Homo sapiens: one gene and its partners. The protein of the gene in region 1 purifies or fractionates together with the protein of each later gene. This does not show direct contact. Each region holds a gene or a part of one and is shown in the gene's direction. Other genes may lie near its edges.

Evidence for each region. The genes of interacting proteins can lie anywhere in the genome.
Region 2: the proteins of CRAT (region 1) and SPATA2 purify together in Homo sapiens (affinity purification with mass spectrometry; one large-scale study listed by BioGRID and IntAct). This does not show direct contact.
Region 3: the proteins of CRAT (region 1) and ACOX1 fractionate together in Homo sapiens (co-fractionation; one large-scale study listed by BioGRID). This does not show direct contact.
Region 4: the proteins of CRAT (region 1) and MLF1 purify together in Homo sapiens (affinity purification with a luminescence readout; one large-scale study listed by IntAct). This does not show direct contact.

What each region holds. Positions count from the first base shown.
Region 1 is NC_000009.12:129,094,294-129,097,543, reverse strand, and holds the end of CRAT (carnitine O-acetyltransferase), read left to right. Parts: intron 1-231; coding exon 232-294; intron 295-1,408; coding exon 1,409-1,546; intron 1,547-1,931; coding exon 1,932-2,147; 3' UTR 2,148-2,750; downstream 2,751-3,250. UniProt on the Homo sapiens protein: Catalyzes the reversible transfer of acyl groups from carnitine to coenzyme A (CoA) and regulates the acyl-CoA/CoA ratio. Also plays a crucial role in the transport of fatty acids for beta-oxidation.
Region 2 is NC_000020.11:49,909,030-49,912,529, reverse strand, and holds part of SPATA2 (spermatogenesis-associated protein 2), read left to right. Parts: exon of another isoform or gene 1-2,078; intron 2,079-3,500.
Region 3 is NC_000017.11:75,958,667-75,962,166, reverse strand, and holds part of ACOX1 (peroxisomal acyl-coenzyme A oxidase 1), read left to right. Parts: intron 1-1,791; coding exon 1,792-1,952; intron 1,953-3,500. UniProt on the Homo sapiens protein: Involved in the initial and rate-limiting step of peroxisomal beta-oxidation of straight-chain saturated and unsaturated very-long-chain fatty acids.
Region 4 is NC_000003.12:158,598,694-158,602,193, forward strand, and holds part of MLF1 (myeloid leukemia factor 1), read left to right. Parts: intron 1-1,320; coding exon 1,321-1,480; intron 1,481-3,500. UniProt on the Homo sapiens protein: Involved in lineage commitment of primary hemopoietic progenitors by restricting erythroid formation and enhancing myeloid formation.

The sequences.
Region 1 (3,250 bases):
AGAAACGGGATTTCACCATGTTGGCCAGGCTGGTCTCAAACTCCTGACCTCAAGGGATCCACCTGCCTCGGCCTCCCAAAGTGCTGGGATTACAGGCGTGAGCCACCGCTCCCAGCCCCAATATTTCCTCTTAAAGAGCTCAGAATCTAGTGCTGGGTGGGGGTGGGCTACTGAGGTGGGCCAGAAGAGAAGGGACAGTGCTTCAGCTCCCTCTGACCCTCACCACTCTAGGAGCACCAGAAGGTGGAGCTGCTGCGGAAGGCCGTGCAGGCCCACCGAGGCTACACCGACCGGGTAAGTGAGCCCGCTTGTGCCTACTCACTTGTCCCTTAGTGTCAGCCATCTGTCTGTCCCTCTGACTGTCCGTCCCTGCAGCCAATGGCTGCCAACCCTTTGCTAGGACCACATCTCCCCCAACCTGGGAGCACCTGGAGCCAGGCTGAATAGCCCCCAACTTTTTCTTTTTTTTTTTTTTTGAGATGGAGTCTTGCTCTGTCGCCCAGGCTGGAGTGCAGTGGTGTGATTTAGGCTCACTGCAACCTCCGCCTCCCAGGTTCAAGCAATTCTCCTGCCTCAGCCTCCCAAGTAGCTGGGATTACAGGCACCCACCACCACACCTGGCTAATTTTTCCATTTTTAGTAGAAACAGGGTTTCACCATGTTGACAGGCTGGTCTCAAACTCCTGACCTCAGGTGATCCACCCACCTCAGGCTCCCAAAGTGCTGGGATTATAGGCGTGAGCCACCGTGCCCGGCCAAATATCCCCATTTTAAAGTTGGAGAAACCCAGCCTGGGCCCAGTAACTGCCTTGGTTCCAGGTTCCAGGGCTGGCCTGGGCCCTAGATGTTGGGTCACACTCTCTCCCTGATGCTAGGTATCTCTCCCTGACGCTAGGTATACATGGTCCAGCAGACAGCCAGTTTCCTGCCCTCCAGCAGCTTGGGCTGCAGTCAGGGAGGTGGCTGTCTGGATGCGTGTCCTGGCTCTGTCTCTGAGCACCTGTGTGTCCAGGCTCTGACCGTGCTACATGCACACGTCCATTTAGAGCTCACCGCCACCCTGCGAGGGGAGTGTAGGACTCACCCCTCTTTACAGATGAAGACACTACAGTTCCAGAACCTAAGCAACCTGCCAAGGCCCTGCAGCCAGGATGGGGCTAGGTCACCCAGCTCCAGGGCCCTGCCCTACAACCCTGCACTTTCCTGCCTCCCTGGGCAAATCCCCGCCCCTCCCTGAGCCTTGGTTTCCCCATCTGTGAAACGAAGGCTCTCTCTGGCCAGAATACTCTGGTCTTGTGGTTTTGAGTGGCCAGTGCCTGCGAAGGGTGGCGCTGCCACAGGCTGAAGAGGGCAGGGATACCCCGGGGGTCCACAGCCCCTGCTCCTGACAGCTCTCCCACCCCAACAGGCCATCCGCGGGGAGGCCTTTGATCGACACCTGCTGGGCCTGAAGCTGCAGGCCATCGAGGACCTGGTGAGCATGCCCGACATCTTCATGGACACCTCCTACGCCATCGCCATGCACTTCCACCTCTCCACCAGCCAGGTGGGCCACTGCCCCAGGTGCCCCGGGGGCTGGAGGCAGAGAACCCACTGGTAGTTTGATGTGGCCTACACAGGCCCCACTGACCCATTGCCAACACAGCTGAGTTCCAGAGGAGGAGCTGGGGGCAGGGGCCTCTCTGCAGCCCAGGCAGGCTGAGAAGGGGTCAGTGCTCCTCATGGGAGAATCAGCTTCGCTGACTCACTGGTCAGGTATAAAGGAACATTTGATTCGTGCCAGCCTGTAGTGGTTGCTGGGATATAGCAGGGGACAGACCATGATCCCTGCCCACAAGGGGCCTGCAGTCTTGGCGGAAGCACAGGCAGCCTGGGAAGTGCTGGGGGCGTCAAGGTAGGGGAGCTGAGAGCTTTCATCCTGCCGTCCCCAGGTCCCTGCCAAGACAGACTGTGTCATGTTCTTCGGGCCCGTGGTCCCCGACGGCTACGGTGTCTGCTATAACCCCATGGAGGCCCACATCAACTTCTCCCTGTCGGCCTACAACAGCTGCGCGGAGACCAACGCCGCCCGCCTGGCGCATTACCTGGAGAAGGCGCTCCTGGACATGCGTGCCCTGCTGCAGAGCCACCCCCGGGCCAAGCTCTGAGCCCCTAGGACTCAGGCCTGCCAATGCCACAGCCAAGCCCACCCTGGGATGGGCCACCCACCAGGGCTCAGCTCCTTGGTTCCCTCTTCCTTGGTTCCCTCTTCCCTGGTCCCCCCAAATCTACTGAGCCACGGACCGCATCCTCCAGGGGGCCTGCAGGCCCCAGCCAAGTGCCTTCCGTGGGTCATCCCAGCACCTGCCAGGGCCCGACCTGGGGCTGAGTGCAGAGGCTGAGCAGGACGTTAGGCCCGGGCCCCTGGCACGTCCTCCACCGGTGCCTCCTCTGGGGAAGGGAACCAGCCCTCCAGAGCAGGAGACTGGCAAGAGCTCTTTGTCTCACCAGCTCAGCCCCGGCCACTCCCTGCCAACTCCATGACCAGGCCACCATCTGTACCCTGCTTCCCAAACTCCCAGGACCTGGAGACAGGATTGTCTGGGGCCGAGGGGCCAGGGTGTGAGGTTTCACCTCCGTTGCGGCTGTGCTCCTGTGGATAACATTGCTAGCGAGCCGCCTCTGGTTCCACTCAGCTTGGTTCCTGCCCCCGCCCTGCTGTATGATATTAATGTGGAAGGTCATCAATAAAGGGGAATTGTGTTGGTGAAGAGGTGTTTCAGCTGAGAGGCAGGCAGGGTGGGGGCAGGCACCTGGCCTTGCCCTCTTCAGCTTTCCCTGGGCCTCGGAGCTGGTGTCCAAGCAGCTGGTGGGCCTGAGGGCTTTGGCCCAGGAGCCAAGGTCCAGCTGTGACCTTGGGGCACTGGGCCCAGAACCATACCAGAGCCAGGGCTGCGTCCTTCACCAGCAGCTTCCCACCTACCTCTGGCTTGGGCCTTCCCAAGTCCCATGGGTTGTGGGTAGGGGCAACTCTCCCAGGGGACTGTGGGGCCCAGCAGGCCCAGGTCTGGTGGGCTGATGAATGTTGCTAATACCCAGGGGCCCAGGGTGTCATTCTACTTCCCCCAACTGAGCCCAGCAAAAGTAGGAGTACAGCAGCAGGCTCAGCTTGCCCCAGGCCCAGCCGCTGCCAGGACAGACACCTTCGGGGGTGGGCAGGTGCGATCAGAGCAGAACCACATACCTGCCCATAGCCCCGTGTCCATGGCTG
Region 2 (3,500 bases), on another chromosome or scaffold:
TGGCAGCTTCTCTTAGATAAGTCAAGAATGGTAAATGCATGTGTGACTATCCTCTCCAGTGGTGCAATACATTTATTTATGTAGAGATGGAGTTTTTGCTCTGTTGCCCAGGCTGGAGTGCAATGGCACGATCTCAGCTCACTGCAACCTCTCCCTCCTGGGTTCACGCCATTCTCCTGCCTCAGCCTCCTGAGTAGCTGGGATTACAGGTGTTCGTCCAGCTAATTTTTGTATTTTTAGTAGAGGCGGGGTTTCGCTATGTTGGCCAGGCTAGTCTCAAACTCCCAATCTCAGGCGATCCACCCACCTTGGCCTCCCAGAGTTGTAGGATTACAGGCGTGAGCCACCGCGCCTGGCCTGCATTTTTATTTTTTAAGAGAATATACATTTTAAATTGTTTATTTTTTTATGGACAGAACAGTATGAAGTTAGAGCACATACCTACTTTGATACTAGGTGGTATGCTCTTCCAGCTAGAGCTGCAGGCAGGATGTGTCTCCTTTATTGCTGTCCTCTACCTGTCCCACCCATCCCCATTCCCCGACTGGGTCCAGCTCAGGCAGAGGGTGGGGGCTGCAGAAATGCTTGCTGGACATGGGAATCGTGGGGTGGTGAGAGGAATACAGGTTCCAAGTCAGAAGGCCAGGCTTGGATTATCGGGTCCATCATCTGCTAACCTTGAGCTACTTGTCGTACCTCATGCCATCTTTCTGAGCCCGTTTCTTTGCTCTCCAGCTGATCTCCCAGGATTCTTGGGAGGTACCAATGAGAAACTAAAGTGATGGCATCGTGAATGCAGACATCCTTTGCAGCATCCATTTCTCTTTTTCTCTTTTCTTTTTCTTTTTCTTTTTTTTTTTTTAGAGACGGAGTCTCGCTCTGTTGCCCAGGCTGGAGTGCAATGGGGCGATCTCGGCTCACTGCAGCCTCCGCCTCCTGGGTTCTAGCAATTCTCCTGCCTCAGCCTCCCGAGTAGCTGTGATTACAGGCGCATGCTGCCACACCCGTCTAATTTTTTTTTAAATTTTGGTAGAGACGGGGTTTCACCGTGTTGCCCAGGCTGGTCTCGAACTCCTGAGCTCAGGCAATCCACCTGCCTCGGCCTCCCAAAGTGCTAAGATTACAGGCGTGAGCCACCGTGCCTGGCTGCAGCATCCATTTCACCTACTTTATCAAGCACAGGCAGGCTCTGTGTTAGGCATCGTGGTGAACAACACAGACATGGTCCTTGCCTTTATGGAGCTTACCACGAGCTTACCAGCTTACCAGGGAGGGTGAGGGGTGGACAAAGAGAGGAAGCTAATGAATGAATGAAGTTGATAGTTTCAGATTGTGGTTATCGTAGGAGAATGTGACAGTGTGGAACTGGGAAGGTGAGATAGGGTGGTACCTCTAGAGGCTGATGTTTGAGCTGAGGCCTGAATGATGAGAATCTTCCTGAAGCAGAATTTTATCCCAAGTGGATTTTGTTTTCTTTTGTAAAGACAGGGTATTGCTATGTTGCCCAGGCTGGTCTCGAACTCCTGGCCTTGAGCAATCCTCCTGCCTTGGCCTTCCAAAGTTTAGGGATTACAGGCGTGAGCCCCCGCACCTGGCCCCTAAATGGATGTGTTTGCCTCCTGTACTCCTCAGCCTTATTTGTCACTGTAGCACTGGGCTCCCTCAGCAGTGCAGTGTGTTGGAGACAGTGGCCTCTCTGTGTCCCTAGTTTTGCTACACATCCCACCTCTCACCGCACCATTAGTACTCCCAGGAGTCTCCTCCTGGGGACAAAATCTGTGGAGGAGCCAGACTACTGGCTCTTTGAGATGAGGATGATTTTGTTGACCTCCTGATAGTTGCTGGGCTCGTAGGACCTTCCTAGCTGAACACAGGTCTGCTAAAGGAGTCCCCCACATGCCAGGCCCAGTCCTGCTGCAGCTTCTCTCAGCCCCTTGCTGTCTCCCACACTCAGCAGACATGAAGCACACAGGTCACCTTACTGAGCAAGATGGTCACAGGCCTGCACCCACGGAGCTTCTGGGCAGGAGCAGCAGGACCAGAGCATGTGAAAATGCACATCTACCACCCAGTCAGAGGTATTTGCCCCACTCAGAGAAGGCCTGTCCACTTAGGGGTACAGCACCTTCAGACAACAGCAATGGCCATCAAGGACTTCCCGGAGCCGGCTCTCTGAGCAGCTTCATATTCCATCATGCATAATCCTCTCGCCAGCTCTGGACAGAGGCGCTATTATTAACCCCGTTTTATAGGAGAAAACCGACACCCAGGGAGGTGGAGCAATTTGCCCAAGTAACCTGGAGAAGCAGCCCTGGCCTCACTCGCAGGTGCCTGGCCTTGGACCCCGTGTCCGTGACCCTGCGCGTGTTGTCTCCCCTGGCCCTGGCAGTGTCCCTCCATTAATCCGGATTCGCTCCCAGCGTTGTGGTGACAAGAATATTGCTGGATCTGTGCCTGTTCTACTAACAAGTGGCTAAGCAGATGACAAGATTGTGTAAAGCCTGTGTCCCAGCTCAGAACATTCTATCCTCTCCCAACAGGGGGCTGTCAAGCGCTCTGGTGATAAAGGGGCCGCAGGCTGTCAAAGGCCGGTAACAGCACTCCAGGGGCCGGTAGCCACGGTGGCCTCTTTTGAAAATTGTAAATAAGACCGTATCTCTCTCCCCTCGCTGTAAACTCTTCAGTGGCTTCACGTGGCTCTTTGTATAAAATATCGAATTCTGAATGTGCTCTTGCGGCCTTGGGGCTGAGGGTCCCGCTGATGCTGGCATCTGCCTCTCCTCATGCCCCTGCCCTCGTGGCCTCGGCCTCACTGGCTGCAGTTCTGTTACTGTTCCAGGCTTCCTGCCTCAGGAAAGCAGGGTGTGGTGGGTAAGGGCATGGACTTTGGAGCCAGATTGCCTGGGTTCTGAGCTCAGCTTCTCTGCCTCCTGAGAGTTCTATAACCTTGGACAGTTTCTTTTTCTTAAAAATTTTTTTGTATTTTTGTAGAGACGTGGTTTCACCGTGTTTCCCAGGCTGGTCTCGAGCTCCTGGACTCAAGCCATCCTCCCCCGTCAGCCTCCCAAAGTTCAGGAATTACAGGTGTGAGCCACTGTGCCTGGCCTACCTTGAGCAGTTTCTAATGTCTGTGTCTCAGTTTGCACATGGTCCACTGGGGCTGCCTGTAGCGTCTCTCTCCTAGGATTGTTTAAGAAGAAAAAGTGAGGCTGGGTATGGGGGCTCACACCTGTAATCCTGGCACTTTGGGAGGCCAAGGCTGGTGGATCACTTGAGGTCAGGAGTTCGAGACCAGCCTGGCCAACATGGTGAAACCCCATCTTGACTAAAAATACAAAAATTAACCAGGCGTGGTGGCAGGTGCCTGTAATCCCAGCTACTTGGGAGGCTGAGGCAGGAGAATCGCTTGAACCCGGGAGGCGGAGGTTGCAGTGAGCTGAGATCACGCCACTGCACTCCAGCCTGGGCTACAGAGCAAGGATCCATCTCAAAAAAAAAGT
Region 3 (3,500 bases), on another chromosome or scaffold:
GCACTGTCAGTTTTTGTATTAAAGTGTTTCAGTAGAGCGTGGCCGAATATTTGACATGATGAATCTGAATGAAATGATCAGAGCTATGTGAGGAATATGGTTCTACGCTGGATGTTTTGTGGACAAAACAGAAAAAAAATCCCAGCCTAGAAGCATTATTGAAATTGCATCGAGGAAAAACTATAATCTGGGGGTCATACTGTCACTCTGAGAGAACTACTATGTTCTGTCTCGCTTTCTCATCAGAGGAAATCCTTGTACCAGTACCACTCAAATTCTCTGTTCTCCGACTCCTGGCTTCAAGCGATTCTGCCTCAGCATCCCAAGTAGCTGGGATTACAGGCACATGCCACCACACCCAGCAAATTCTCCATTCTATACAACTTTTTTTTTTTTTTTTTTTTTTTGAGACAGAGTCTCGCTCTGTTGCCCAGGCTGGAGTGCAGTGGTGTGATCTCGGCTCACTGCAACCACCGCCTCCCAGGTTCTCCTGCCTCAGTCTCCCAAGTAGCTTGGATTACAGGCATGTGCCACCACACCTGGCTGATTTTGTATATTTAGTAGAGATGGGGTCTCACCATGTTGGTCAGGCTGGTCTTGAACTCCTGACCTCAGGTGATCCGCCCACCTTGGCCTCTCAAAGTGCTGGGATTACAGGCATGAGCCACGGTGCCCGGCCTTTTTTTTTTTTTTTTTTTTTTGTATTTTTAGTAGAAACGGGATTTCACTATGTTGGCCAGGCTGGTCTCAAACTCCTGACCTCAAGTGATCCGCCTGCGTCAGCCTCCCAAAGTGCTAGGATTACAGGCATGAGCCACCATGCCTGGCCCTATACAACTTTTCAAATTCTCTCTCTCTTTTTTTTTTTTTTTTTGAGATGGAGTCTCACTGTGTCGCCCAGGCTAGAATGCAGTGGTGTTATCTTAGCTCACTGCAACCTCTGCCTCCTGGGTTGGAGCAATTCTCCTGCCTCAGCCTCCTGAGTAGCTGGGATTACAGGTGTGCACCACCATGCCTGCTTAATTTTTGTATTTTTAGTAGAGACAGGGTTTCGCCATGTTGGCCAGGCTGGTCTTGAACTCCTGACCTCAGGTGATCCACCCACCTCGGCCTCTCAGAGTGCTGAGATTATAGGTGGGAGCCACTGCACCTGGCCAATTCTCTCTTATTTATTTATTTATTTTTTTTGAGACAGAGTCTCACTCTGTCACCCAGGCTGGAATGCAGTGGGCATGATCTCGGCTCACTGCAACCTCCGCCTCCTAGGTTCAAGCGATTTTCCTGCCTCAGGCTCCCAAATAGCTGGGACTACTGGCTGGCGCCACCACGTTCAGCTGATTTTTGTATTTTTAGTAGAGTCAGGGCTTTGCCATGTTGGCCAGGCTGGTCTCGAACTCCTGACTTAAGGTGATCTGACCGCCTTGGCCTCCCAAAGTGCTGAGATTGTAGGCATGATCCACTGCACTGGCCTCTCAAATTTTCTTTATTTCCTTTGATTTAATTCCTGGGCGAGGATCCTCTGCCTTGCACGTGTGGTTTTGTGCTGCATTGGCTTTGGAATCAGTAACCAATCCCTGTCCTCGTACTCCTTGCCGACTCAGGAAAAATGGAAATTAACAAGAGCTATAAAGTAATACAGAAAGGGACAGTGCTCCCATCTATGATTAAGTGCACGCAACTAATTCATACTTAAGGTTTTTTTGTCTCCTTCCCTTGCTCTATTTAAATTGCTGATTCTCTCACACCTGATGACTCTTCTCTCAAATGCCCATCCTTGATATTTCCTCGAAGTTTTGTGCACCGAGGGCGGCCTGAGCCTCTGGATCTTCACTTGGGCATGTTCCTGCCCACCTTGCTTCACCAGGCAACTGCGGAGCAGCAGGAGCGCTTCTTCATGCCCGCCTGGAACTTGGAGATCATTGGCACTTATGCCCAGACAGAGATGGGTCATGGTATGGAGTATTCAGTCTACCTTCTGGGTTGGGCGGGCCCCTGTGAGCTTACCATGTGTGGAGTGCCCACCATGTGCCATCGATGGTGTGTCGATGTTCTATGGTCTGTTTAAATGAGCTCTTTCTGCAGAGTCCAGGTTTTGGTATAAACACTGCTTTGGTGAGTGGGAATTAAAGACCATGATACTGATAAAATGATTGTCCTTTTTATACCATAGTTCCCCTTCAGAGGGTCAAGAATTGCAAATCAGGCCTTATTTACCAAGTGGTTTTTCAATGTTACTGAGGTTGTATAGAATCTGTGTGCATATACAACCCGAAGCTGTTTTTTTCTTCATTACTATCTGATTACCTTTACTACTGATACCTTAATGAGTACAAATTCCAGAAGAAATACAAATAATAGTTTGTGTACTCTTGGATTTGCTTGAGGGAAATGAGTAGCTTATAACTGACGTGTGTGACATTTTGGAGTTATTTGTACTTTGAGTCAATCAGTAGTTCTGCAAGTGACTTGGCTGGAGAGTGAAAAAACCAAGATAAGCCGAACTTGCAGGCATTTGGTTTCAGACTCTGTATCTCCACCTTTCATTGATCTTTCCACCCCCCACCTGCTTTCTTCATGCACCTGGGTGGGCTGGAGGTGGCCGCTGTTCCTCTTTGTATCTTCTCTGAATTGGGTCCGTGTTTGCCATTCATTTGCTTATGGCTTCTCTTTTTCTGCTCTGACGTTTCAGAAAAACTGGTCTAGTGTGTATTTGCCACTTGCTCCTTATTTCTATACAGCTGCTGCTTTTTATTTGGTGTTGAATAGTATTTTACAGGATTTTCATGAGACTCCAAGTGGAATACTATTTGTTTCAGTTGTGCTTTTGAAAACATTTTGTCCTTATCTGTTCTGTTTAATGTTATCTGCTTTTCTGTAAAAGCTGCTTCTTTGATGAAAGATGTCTGTGTCTGATTTGTTGACTCCCACTCGGGAAAGTTGTGGATTGCACATAAGTTGGTTATTCAACTTGGAAGCTTCTAAATGTTTCAAAGTGTGTTTAATGAGGTCTAAGCGTTATGAAAGCAGATTGGTAAAAGGTTCCCAACGTTTGCTTTAGTACAGTATTTTTGTAGAGACTGCCACCTAGAACATTTTTCTATGACTCTTTTCAAATAATTTTGATATATTTGTGTTAAGATTTAAAACATAAGATCCTGTCTATCCCAGTACACATAAGAAACTGGAAACTCTTCCTTGCCACATTAATGAACCAGCAGGACTAAGTTAGGCCTGCCATTGGAAATCTCTAGGGTCAACTGAGACCTTATTATTGGACCTTTAGGAATTTTTAAAAGTCACATTTCAGGTCATTTCCCCAATAACAGTTATACTTTTATACTTTTTTTTTTTTTTTTTTTGAGACGGAGTCGTGCTCTGTCGCCCAGGCTGGAGTGCAGTGGCGCGATCTCAGCTCACTGCAAGCTCCACCTTCCGGGTTCACGCCATTCTCCTGCCTCAGCCTCCCGAGTAGCTGGGACTACAGGCACCCACCACCATGC
Region 4 (3,500 bases), on another chromosome or scaffold:
TCTCTTGCTTTGTTTTCTTTTTAAGCGAAAATGTACAGAGGCAGTTAAACCTTCTAATACATTCCTCTGAGGTCTATTTTCCCTTTCTCCCCTTCTCAGAGATTACCATTTTCCTGTATCTGGAGTTTATCATTTTCACGCATGTTTTTACAATTTTATTACTTCACGTTTCTGTCATTAAAAAAATGGATTATTTTCCAGATTTCCCAACATTACATAAAGGGTATCATATTGCATATGTCCTCTGCAACTTGTCTTTGCTGAGTAATATGCTTCTGAGATTTATTCAGCTTGATACATGTGGCCCTGGTTTCTTTAACTTCTATGTAGTATCCAAAATATGAATATATTATGATTAATACGCTTCTGAGATTTATTCAAGTTGATACATGTGGCCCTGGTTTCTTTAACTTCTATGTAATATCCAAAATATGAATGTACCATGATTTTTAAATCATTTTCTGTCAATAGATATGTAGGTGAGTCTAATCTTTCACTAATTCATCTTTATACATGGCTCCTTATACAGAGTCTAGGAGTGGTATTGCTGAGTTGTAGGGTATGTGTACTTTCCTCTTTACCTAGCGTTTCCAAGCTACTATCCCAGTGATTGAAATTGTTGGCTTCCAAAACTGTGGCTTGTGAGTTTCCATTTCTCTACTTCCTTGTTAGTACTTATAGTAAAAATTTAGGTTTACCAATCTAATGAATGTGAAGTAGTACATTTTTTAGTTCTTACATATAAAGATGAACCTTTTAATGATGCTTTTGCCATAGTTCTGCTAATTAATCTCAGACATTTTAATTTTAACTTTCTAAAAGTGACAAACTTAAATGTAAACAGAATATAATTGTAGATGTCCCACAGTAAATCATGTTAGTTGCTATCAGAAATATTCTTATAATACTTCCATAGAGTTGATAGTCGGGAATCATGAGATTCAAGCCAATCAATATGACTGATGAATAATTAGTTGCCCTTATTTGTAGGAATCCCACCATAAACTTCCTTCTATTACATTATCTAAGACAGTCTTGAAGGCATTAAACTATAATTGCTACTTTTGTTTTAATATTTGATTACAATTTGGAAAAAGGTTAAATTGTATGGGTTCTGTTTGTTGTAGACATTTTCATTTTAAGGAGTTCAGGAAATATCAGAGACTTATTACCACAGTTTTACCACAAGTTAATAGTGGAACTGAGCACACATTATTTTTAGAGCAATAGATCTATGGCCATATCTCTGTAGGTAAGCTGGCCCTGAGATATACATTCTATATATATTTAAATAATAATAAAATTTCTTTATTTTTACAGATAAAGGAAACCAGGAAAGCAATGAGAGATTCTGACAGTGGACTAGAAAAAATGGCTATTGGTCATCATATCCATGACCGAGCTCATGTCATTAAAAAGTCAAAGAACAAGAAGACTGGAGATGAAGAGGTCAACCAGGAGTTCATCAATATGAATGAAAGTAAGTTATCACAAAAAAATAATATTCTTTCTTATAAATTTAAAATAACAGCCGTACTTGATGAATTTTTTTTTAGAAACATGTCATAAGATGTAGTTTTTGAATAATGCATGTAGAGAATACCTTGTGAAAGTAATAGGATTGTGTTTTCATCCTTTCATAGGAGAGCTCTTTTTTATAGTGATTTTTGGCAATATGGGATATTACTTATTTTTATTTTATCCTTGGAAAGTGGAATCTTTTGAATTGTTATTTAGTAATATCATTAGGCAAAATGTGTCTTTAAATATTTTTTCTGATTATCAAGAAAGTACATTTGAAAAGTATAAAGACAAAAATAATCCATAATCCAAACTCAAAATACTAGTAATATTTTAATGTATTTCTTCCTAATCATTTTATATATATAAACACTTTTTTCTCAAATTATTATTCTACTTTTATATAGTTTATATTGTGCTTATTTTAATTTACCATTATAATTGTAAAGTTACTTATGATGCTATTTTTCAAAAGCATTTTAAGTGGTTACCTTAAAGTTTTATTGTAAATAAGCCATAATTTTTACTTAAATCATTCTGTACTGTTCAGTAGTACTTAGGCTTTTGTATAGACAAGATTTTAATTTCTGTTATATGTTAGATTACATGTATGTCTCTCTCTCTCAAGTAAATCTTTTCTTTTTCTGGATTTTGTATTTATTCTTCAATGCATTTACATCCTTCTAGTGTCCTAACTCTTCTCCCTGTAGTTTTTAATTATATTACAATTTATTAACAAATTTAATCATTAAATTTAAATTATTTTTATTAATTTTTAAATCAATATTAAGCTTTTATATTTAATTGTATTAATTCAATAATGAAATTATATTAAAATTTAGTTGGATTCATCTCCTAGTTTCAGAAAGTATTTTGAATAATGTTTTTCCATAATAGAGTGTTTAAATTTTAAATTGTTGTATTAAAAAAGAAATTCTGGCCGGGCACGGTGGCTCATGCCTGTAATCCCAGCACTTTGAGAGGCCGAGGCAGGTAGATCATGGGGTCATAAGTTCGAGACCAGCCTGGCCAACATGGTGAAACCCCATCTCTACTAAAAATACAAAAATCAGGGCCCGGCACAGTGACTCACGCCTGTAATCCTGGCACTTTGGGAGGCCAAGGCGGGCAGATCACGAGGTCAGGAGTTCAAGACCAGCCTGACCAACATGGTGAAACCCCGTCTCTACTAAAAATACAAAAATTAGCCGGGCATGGTGGTGCACGTGCCTGTAATCCCAGCTACTCGTGGGGCTGAAGCAGGAGAATCGCTTGAACCCAGGAGGCGGAGGTTGCAGTGAGCCAAGATCGAGCCCTTGCACTCCAGCCTGGGCGACAGAGCGAGACTCTGTCTCAAAAAAATAAATAAATAAAATAAATAAAAATACAAAAATCAGCTGGGCATGGTGGCCCGCGCCTGTAATCCCAGCTACTTGGGAGGCTGAGACAGGAGAATCTCTTGAACCCGGAAGGCAGAGGTTGCAGTGAGCCAAGATCACGCATTGCACTCCAGCCTGGGCAAAAGAGCAAGACTGTGTTGGGTGGAGGGGAGGAAGAAATTCTATTAACATTGGGGTTTGATAAAATTATTCTTTTTTTTTTTTTTTTTTTTGAGACGGAGTCTCGCTCTGTTGTCCAGGCTGGAGTGCAGTGGTGCAGTGGTGTGATCTCGGCTCACTGCAAGCTCCGCCTCCCAGGTTCACGCCATTCTCCTGCCACAGCCTCCTGAGTAGCTGGGACTACAGGTGCCCGCCACCATGCCTGGCTAATTTTTTCTATTTTTAGTAGAGACGTGGTTTCACCATGTTAGCCAGGATGGTCTTGATCTCCTGACCTTGTGATCCGCCCACCTCAGCCTCCCAAAGTGCCGGGATTACAGGCGTGAGCCACCACACCTGGCTGGGGTTTGATAAAATTATTCTTATGCAGTAAGATAGAAGCCATGATATTGTGACCTGTGTTTATTTGTAACCTCTGTA